Homo sapiens: one gene and its partner. The protein of the gene in region 2 purifies or fractionates together with the protein of the main gene of each other region. This does not show direct contact. Each region holds a gene or a part of one and is shown on either strand. Other genes may lie near its edges.

Evidence for each region. The genes of interacting proteins can lie anywhere in the genome.
Region 1: the proteins of ATP2C1 (region 2) and SLC7A2 fractionate together in Homo sapiens (co-fractionation; one large-scale study listed by BioGRID). This does not show direct contact.

What each region holds. Positions count from the first base shown.
Region 1 is NC_000008.11:17,545,039-17,549,924, forward strand, and holds part of SLC7A2 (cationic amino acid transporter 2), read left to right. Parts: intron 1-3,639; coding exon 3,640-3,805; intron 3,806-4,886. UniProt on the Homo sapiens protein: Functions as a permease involved in the transport of the cationic amino acids (L-arginine, L-lysine, L-ornithine and L-homoarginine); the affinity for its substrates differs between isoforms created by alternative splicing.
Region 2 is NC_000003.12:130,896,577-130,901,462, reverse strand, and holds part of ATP2C1 (calcium-transporting ATPase type 2C member 1), read right to left. Parts: intron 1-4,886. UniProt on the Homo sapiens protein: ATP-driven pump that supplies the Golgi apparatus with Ca(2+) and Mn(2+) ions, both essential cofactors for processing and trafficking of newly synthesized proteins in the secretory pathway.

The sequences.
Region 1 (4,886 bases), on a different chromosome or scaffold from region 2:
GATTGTAAAGGAAGCAAGTTCTAATCACCTGTCATTTTGTAATGTCGACATTATATAGGCAAACATACTTAGTACTAGGATTTTCCAGTTTTTGTCAGTATTGTAGCATAGTGGTTTTAGGAGGCACAGGAATTCTAATAACCACATTTCAATCCTGCTGTGCCACTCACTCTGCTTTAGAACATAGAACAATTTATTTAATCTTTCCCTCACTCGTACATAAAATGAGGGCATCAGTGTCTGCCTCCTATAGCCTTCTCGTTTGGTTCCTAGTAAGCACTCACGTGGTGGCTGATTTTATTTCATAGGCATAGCTAATCCCTGCTCTGTCTCCTTATATTTGTTTTAACTATTTGAACATTTTCTTTTTTTTTTTTTTTTTTTTTTTTTGAGATGGAGTCTGACTCTGTCGCCCAGGCTGGAGTACAGTGGTACTGCAACCTCCGTCTCCCGGGTGCAAGCGATTCTTCTGCCTCAGCCTCCTGAGTAGCTGGGACTACAGGTGCGCGCCACCGCACCTGGCTGATTTTTGTATTTTTAGTAGAGACGGGGTTTCACTATGTTGGCCAGGCTGGTCTCAAACTCCTGACCTCAAGTGATCCCCCTGCCTCAGCCTCCCAAAGTGCTGGGATTACAGGCGTGAGCCACCATGCCTGGCCACGTTTTCTCTTTTGAGTCTCCTTCTTACCTGCAGTCCTGCTTATGTCCATCAAGGATTGCCCTAAGAGTAAAAACCATGTCTGTTCCTACTTCTTCCTTGCTTTACCCTGGGCAGTCTGCCTCATGCTTTCTTGTCCGACCTTATCTCTGTTTTCTCCCTTGTTAGAAGAGTGAGACAGAAATATCTTTCTCTTTTGAAATGTTTACTCAAAAATTATATAATTTTAAAAATAGCTTTACCCTTTAAAAAGTGAGTCATTAATCAAATGTTTTACATACGGATAGGGATAAGAACATGAACAAAGTGCGTAGATCTAAAATGTTTTGCATTTTGAGTCTAATGTCAAGAGAAGTTGCACCAATTGTTTTTCAACAAAGAATTGATTTTTGTTTTGGTTTCTAAGCAGTCTAGCTTAGAAATAGAAACCAGTCTAGCGTTAAATTATTTCCATCATATTTTATTTAGGGATCATTTTAATGAACTTAAAATATTCAACTTTAATCTCTAAATGACGAAGAGCATGTAGCTGTGACACAATTAGAACATAGTTTAATTCCACAGCAAGACTCAGGTCTTGGCTCATTTGTCCTGTGTTCATTCACCATCATATCTTTCCTTTAATTATAGGTGAAGCTTATGTTTTAACTTTGTTCTTAGAATCTCTGAAGATCAAAACCTCCTATGTAAATCCCTATTCATATCGTAACACCAAATGTCTTTTTACGTGAAGCCGTTGTTTTACTAAAGATACACGGGAAGTGTATGCTCTGCTTAGATGAGATATTCATTGGTGTCTAATCTTCCGGTGGGAGATGAGACCTCAGAGTAGACAGTGCATATATGCTGTTGGGAAACTTACATGAAATATAAAGGTGGCTTTGTTATTCTCTGAGGTATATAGCAGTGGTTCCTAACCTAACTTACAATTACAGAGTCAGGAATTGTGTTGACCATACAGCTTTCCTTTATATGGTTAATATATGATTCTAGGAATTACACAGGTAGAAATAAAATTCAAGTTCTTTCATCTCTGCTTGGAAAAATTTGCTTTTTTGATGGTGGGTGGTATAGATACGGGGAACAAACAACTAAATCTGTGGCATCATCTTTTCACAGCAATCATTTGCTCAATGGTAAAAGATAAACTTTCTTAGGTCCGTAATTCAAATCTTATACCAGATGGGTTAAAGATATACATATGATAAATATAATTAGAAAAATACTAGAAGGAAGCAAAGTAGGTGTTTTGGGTTAATGTTTAAGAGATTTTTTTCAAGGTAGAAACTAAAAAGGGAAAATTTATTTTTCAGTCTGATAACTTTTCTACATGTACATAATCTGTTGTACATGGCAGGTAGAGAGCTTATGGCATTAATATATAAATAAATTTTATAAATCAATGTATTAGTCCATTTTCATACTGCTATGAAGAAATACCCAAGACTTGGTAATTTATGAAGAAAAAGAGGTTTAATGGACTCACAGTTCCACATGGTTGGGGAGGCCTCACAGTCATGGTGGAAGGTGACCGAGTAGGGAAAGAACGTCTCACGGGGTGTCAGGCAAGAGAGCATGTGCAGGGGAACTGCCCTTTATAAAACCATCAGATCTCATGAGGTGTATTCAGTATCATGAGAACAGCACAGAAAACCTGCCCCCATGATTCAGTTACCTCCCACTGGGTCCCTCCCATGATACATGGGGATTATGGGAGTTACAATTCAAGATGAGATTTGGGTGGGGACACAGCCAAATCATATAATCAATATGAATAGAATATCCTAATAGAAAAAATAGATACTTTAAATTGAGCCAAACTTTCCAGAGAATATTTTGATAATAGGAACCAACAGTCCATATCTTTGATGCAGTATTACTTTGCAGAAAATTGTTGTATAGAAGTAAATGGAAAGTGTAGAAAGATATTTATAAAAGAATTATTATGTCAGTGCTATTTATAATTGTAACAAACAAAGAGTGATCTAATTGTCTATAAATAAGGGATGAATTAAAGTGTAGTACCTCAATATAGTCGAAGATTATGCAGCTGTTAAAAATGAGATTATATATTTACTGGCACAAAAGAGTGTGTGTGTGTGTGTGTGTGTGTGTGTGTGTGTGTGTTTACAAAATTTGGGAGGGAAAAGCACGGTTGATCTTTTTATATTTTTTTCTGTGTCTTCAAAGTACTTGAATAGAAATTGATCACTTTTGCAATCAGAATATACAGCTATTAAAATGAGAATAGGTTTAACAAAGTACTTTTTTGGCACAATTGAAGTATTATCTTTGTTTATGTATTTTGTGTGCATGGCAGACAAATGTTTTAGCGTTTACTTTTTAAAAGTTCGCAACTGGGCCGGGCATTGTGGCTTAAGTGCCTGTAATTCCAGTACTTTGGGAGGCTGAGGCAGGCAGATCACTTGAGGTCTGGAGTTCTAGACTAGCCTGGCCAGCATGGCGAAACCCCAACCCTACGAAAAATACAAAAATTAGCCAGACATGGTGGCACACACCTGTAGTCCCAGCTACTCAGGTGGCTGAGGTGAGAGAATTGTTTGAGCACAGGTGGCAGAGGTTGCAGTGAGCCGAGATCATACCACTGCACTTCTGCCAGGGAAACAGAGCGAGACTCTGTCTCAAAAAAAGAAAAAATAGTTTGCAACCATTTACCTTGAAATTAGATGTTACTTTACCTATCACTGGCAAAGATGGCCAAAGTTACTAGATTTATGTTTCTTAGAAAGTGTAGTGTCTTCTATGAGCATGACCTGCCTCCGAAATTGAGTTGGTTGCATTCAGAAGACATTTCAGAATTAGGTAATTAACTAATGAGTAAGAACTAGCAGTAGAGGTAGATAGATGGAAATTAAAGACATGAATGCTGGTGAAATAATATCCTAAAGTCATGTATTTGCCTCAAAATGCTATTGCCTTTCCTAAAGCTAAATAAAAATTGAAATGCCCTTTTTCCATAGGTCTTTTGTCTTTTGGAGTAAAAGAGTCTGCTTGGGTGAATAAAGTCTTCACAGCTGTTAATATTCTCGTCCTTCTGTTTGTGATGGTTGCTGGGTTTGTGAAAGGAAATGTGGCAAACTGGAAGATTAGTGAAGAGTTTCTCAAAAATATATCAGCAAGTGCCAGGTAAAATATTTGAGGTTTTTTTTTTTCTCCTTCTTGTTTAAGAAAATATTTTAAGTGGGTGTATTAGTTCATTTTTACTCTGCTAATAAAGACATACCCATGACTGGGTAATTTATAAGGAAAAAGAGATTTAATGGACTCACAGTTCCACATGGCTGGGGAAGCCTCACAATCGTGGCGGAAGGTGAAAGGCATGTCTCACATGGTGGCAGACAAGAGGAGAGAACTTGTGCAGGGAAACTCTCCCTTATAAAACCATCAGCTCTTGTGAGACCCACTCACCATCACAAGAACAGCACAGGAAAGACCTGCCCCCATGATTCAACCACCTCCCACTGGGTCCCTGCCACAACACATGGGAACTGTGGGAGCCACAATCCAAGATGAGATTGGGTGGGGACACAGCCAAACCATACCAGAAGGCATATGTGGGTTTTCTTCTAGAGCAGTGGTTCTCAAATTTCTTGCTTCTGAGACCCTTCTGAGAGACTGTTCCATTCCAAGACCCCTCTTCCCAGATTCCCTTCAAACTTAAAGGTATAGGTATGCTCCTTTTGGAGCAACTGTGTGAACCCATGCAGCTGCTGGTTCCCAGCCTCAAGCTCTGCTCCGGGTTTAGGGAAAGAGCAAGGGAAGATCCTAACCATTGGAAAAACTTGATCTTTTCCCCCCAGCAGTTTGCCACCACTAAATAACAATGAGTATTTTTGAGTCCTGCATCCTTTAGTTCTTCCTTCAGGACCACCATTCAGTTTTATTGTATTCTCTTAATGCTTTAGTAATCTTCAGACCTTGTTTTTTGGAGAATGTTGTTAGTTGCACAAGCAGACATAAGATTACACAAATATCTATTGCATGGAATGGGGTACACCTGTATGTTTTTCTTGACAGAGGTTGTTTAGTCATTCCAATAAGGGAAAAAATTGGTATCCTATAAACTTACATAGTTTTTAACATATAATAAAATATTCAATTTCATTATTATCAATCAAGACTAGGAAGTTTTGTTTCGTGTTTTTAAATGTCTTCTTAGGGAATGTTAGAGACATATACTCTGCCTTACTCGATGCTTTATGAATTG
Region 2 (4,886 bases):
CCTTCATTCCCATTACTCTAATATAGATACAAACCACACTCCCTTTATCTTCTAACAGATGAAATCAGGAGTAACTAATCTCTCTTGGCCCCTCATATGAATTAGGGGTACATATCAAGATATAATAACTGATCTACCAACTTTTAGGATAGAGGGCTGGCAGACTTCAGAGCAGTCCCCAATGACCACATCTTTCTCTGGGGTGGGGAGGGATGCTGGAATTTCTCATCTGATACTAGTTTCATAAGCCAAATATTAACTCTTAAGTAAACAGTAACCCTCACAAGCATTAAGAAAAGGACACAGCAGAAATTAGTTTGCATACCACTACAAAGTGGTTTGCATGCTATTTCTGGCATTTGTGCCATGAACTGCTTTTGCCTGCTTCAAAAGAAGGTAGAACTGACACTCAACAGAGCAAGTAAGGTACAACTCCCAAGCTTAATTAAGCCAACTAATATTTCCACCCCTGATGATGTAGAAACCTAGATGAAGGCAGGTAAAGCAAACATGCTGCTAGGGAAACACTAAAAATAGATGGCCAAACAAAATCTAGTGAAATGCCTGCATACAAAGAGAGATATAAATCTCATATATAACATATACAAATAAAATCACAGCATCAAAAGGCTAATTTATTTATACTACAAATGAAAAAGGCTCCGATTTAAGATGAGAGGAAATCCAGGACCTGGTTCAAAGTTGGATCTTGCCCTTAGGCAGAGAATAACAGAACGTTTATGTACTAATGTACTAATGCTCTATTCTTTTTAACTTCAGGACACCATAACCAAGATAAATTTCTGAAATTCACAACTTAACCAAAACTTTTAATTTTTACTTTGCGTGTTTAAATTTTCAAAAAAACACATTTACATATTCAAAAAAAAAGTCTGATGAGTGACATCCTAAATATTTCCACTTATTATTTCTGAGTTTTCCTATAAAAGGCTGATGGCAAATATATTTATTATTTAGGGTCCTGCTTTTTCCAACTTTATCAAGCTGTTTTAAGTAAGTAAATAAATAAATGAAAGTAATTTCTATAAGGATGCATCAATATCTCAAAGCTTTCTAAAAGAATAAAGAATGTCATACTAAAGCTGGGCACGGTGGCTCATGCCTATAATTCCAACAATTTGGGAGGCCAAGGCAATAAGACTGCTTGAGTCCAGGAGTTCAAGACCAGCATGGGCAATATATCAAGACCTCGTCTTTAAAAAAATTAAGAAATTAGCTGGGTATAGTGATGTGTGCTTATAATCCCAGCTACTCAGGAGGCTAAGGCAGGGAGATCGCATTAGTCCAGGAGTTAGGGGCTTTGGTGAGCTATAATGATGCTACTGTGTCCCAGCCCAGCCTGGGTTACAGAGTGAGACTCCATCTCAAAAAAATAAATAAATAAATAAGCACAAAGGGAAAAAAAAGGATGTCATACTAAATTAACGTATTTCCTTCTGAGGGAGGGACACGAGTTTAGGTCAGCATGTTTACGAAATGACCAAATGTCAAACCAAAAGGCCTTTACTTAAGAAAGCAATTACAACTAACAGGTATATTAAATAATTCCAATTCACACATTCTCTAATACCTATAGCAGAATTAAAAAAAGCAGAGATAGAAATTGAATCAGACACCCAGTTACGGCCATCTTAAGATAATGCTTCTGACCCCGACTATTACTGTCTTCTGTCTATAATCTAGGACAGCTTTTCAACATTTCATTCAAACTTTTTCTAAACACATCACAGGTTTAGTCTAAACCAACCTAATTTAACACAATTGGTGTAATTTATTTGTAATTCTACGATTTATACTTTTGTCGTAGCAACTTAAAGCCTGAAGACAGAAGATACACAGTTGACTCTTTAACAACATGAGTTTCAACTGTAAAGGTCTACTTATACTCAGATTTGCTTCTGTCACCCGAGACAGCAAGACCAACCCCTCCTTTTCTTCAGCCTACTCAAAGCGAAGACAATGAGGATGAAGACCTTTATAGTGATCCACTTCTGCTTAATGAATTATAAATATATTTTCTCCTCCTCATAATTTTCTTGGTAAGTTTTTTTCTCTACTTTATTGCAAGAATACAGTATATAATACATATAGCATACAAAGTATGTGTTAATTGACTGTTTATGTTATCAGTGAGGCTTCCAGGCAACAGTAGAGACTATTAGTAGTTTAGTTTTCAGAGAGTTAAAAGTTACATGCAGATTTTCAACTGCATGGTGGGTCAGCACCCCAACCCCCACATTGTTCAAGGGTCAACTGTATTAACAAATGCATATAAGTAGCAGTCATATACATCCAAGAGGAAATTATCAATTTAGCCTTTTTTTTGAGAGATCCTTTCTTTCATGAAATGATGGCATTAACCTCAGGATGCACCCTTTACTGCCTTTTACCAACATTTGTCTACATGAAAAGCATAAAGATAACCTTGTCACAACTGATGCCTGAAACCATTATTAAAAAGAATTTGTTTCAACAAAGTAAATGTGAGGGGACCTCTTGAACTGATCCTTAAGATATTTTAAGATGCTACATGTAACAACGGTGTAATTTAAAATTCATGCTAACTTTACCATCAAGCCACAGTGTTCCTGGCACCTTTAAAACAAAATTTAACCTTGCAAAACAGATCATGGCTAACTAAGATCTCCAAAATCAGTCCTGGGCCCCTAGGGGTGTGTTCCCTAGGAAACTATTTTGTTTCATAATGCTTTGCGTTAACAGACCTGAATTCTGCTGACTTTAAATGAATGACAAAAATATGAAGACAAATCAAGTATTTGGAATCCAACTGTCAGAAGGTTATTGCATACAAGTACTCTCTACAGCATCCTCTGGCTTAAATTACTACAGTTTACAAAATGTCATATATATAATCTCTTTTAGTTTCAACTCTTTTTCAGAGTACTAATTAAGACTATCATTTTATGGACAAAACTGCAAACAACATAAACTATATTTCCCACACCCAAAGATATATTTTTATAACCTGGTTTCCTATTTTCAGTTAAAGGAATAAAATTAAGGTGGCTTCTCATCCCTTTTTCCCTATAGCTTCTCCAACTATAGTAATGCAATTTTTTCTTGAGACATTCCTAGCTGATTAACAATTTGAAATTGAATTAAGAAACTGCTTTTAAAAGTAAAGTGTAAATACAACCATTTTCAAACAAAAAAGATTGGGGCATTGTTCTCTACACCTATTAGCTCTGTCTATAATCTTAAATTAACCATGTCCTGAAATCCTGAAGACTATTACATTTCTATCCACTAGTCAAACATTTAAGGCTATATTAAAGTTTCATGTGTATTAAAGTCACACTGAATTTTCTATGGGAAAGGCCAAATTTATTCCAAAAAATAAATCCATTACTAGAAAGGAAAACCTATGTGCAAGCTTCTCCAGCTAGACATATCTTTTCTAGTAAGCTATCACTTTAAACATGCAATTAACTTTTAAAAATCAGGTAAGAGCTGTTTACTTGTGCATCTCAAGATGCCTAAGCGGGATCTGTTTAGATTTGTGATAAACATGTAAAAACAAATTCCAAAGGATCTGGATAAAATCCTAACTCACGACTGAATGTTAAGTAGTCCAAAAATTCCAGGAAATTAACATTTTAAACGTTCCTAGTGACAAGCAGAAAGTGTTCATGAAACATCCTGGAGTCTACAGCTAAAAATTGGTCAAGCTTTGCTGAGAAAGTTTAAATGGGCCCTAGGAAAAAAGTCCAGAAGAATCTAAACCGAAGTGCCAAAGAAAATACCACCATTGCTGAAGGAACCAACACATGGATGAAACCATTTCCTCCCCACACCACTGTAAGCTACCTAAGAAACCTTCATGCTGATGCTCTAGGGAAACACTATCAATTCTACACTGTTCACACCCACAAATGTAACTACCTGCATACCTACTGGAGGATACTCTTACTAGGGAACAGCAGCATCACTCAATTCATCCAAGTTAACTGTATGTCAAACATTGCTCTGGCGGCTTCATTTATTACTCACATCAACTTTGCAAGAGGGCATTATCTCATTTACAGATGAGATAACTTAGAGGCTGAGAAAGCTTAGAAGCCTAGTAACTTGTCAGATTTTTCAGGAGAGGAAAACATTACTTGTCGGGCTTCAAATCCAAACCTGTCTCTTTCTGTACTGGACCCTGGCTTCTTGGTAGAGCCCTAACTTTTTCTGTAGGCTTAAAAGCACTAATGCCATAGAAAATTCCTTACCTAACTCCACTTATCCCTCAACTAACAATGACAACTTCATTTTGAGCATTTGGCTACTACTGTTCCCCCTTCCAACATTTAACTGTCATGACAATATTAATGCCAGGTGGCCTATTAGTATGTATCAAACATTCAGCTAGGCAATTTATAATTAACATTTACCGAGCACTTACTATGTGCCAGATACTGTTTGAATGTTTACAACAACCTCATAAGGTAGGTTCTATCATTATCTTTATTTTATGAAGAAACGGAAGCACAGAAAACTTTAATATGCACAAAGCCAAATGGTAAGCGACGAATCCAGCATTCAAATCAGTCTGCATGGTTCCACCACAACTCAAGCTCTTAAACGTTATCATTCCTACCTCACAAGAGAATTTATACAGGGTTTCTCATTTAATCCTCTCAATTCTGTGAGTTAAAGATTATCAATCCCAATTTATAGATGAAGAAATACAGGCTCAGAAAGGTGACGTAATTTACTTAAAATCACACAGCTTTAAGTGGTTCAAGACAAGTTAGTCAAGACTTGAATCCATTTTTGTTTCACACCTCCAAATTGTTAATACTACACTATATCAAAGAAGGATGAAAACTACAAAAAGGCAAGTGAACAATAAAAAGGCA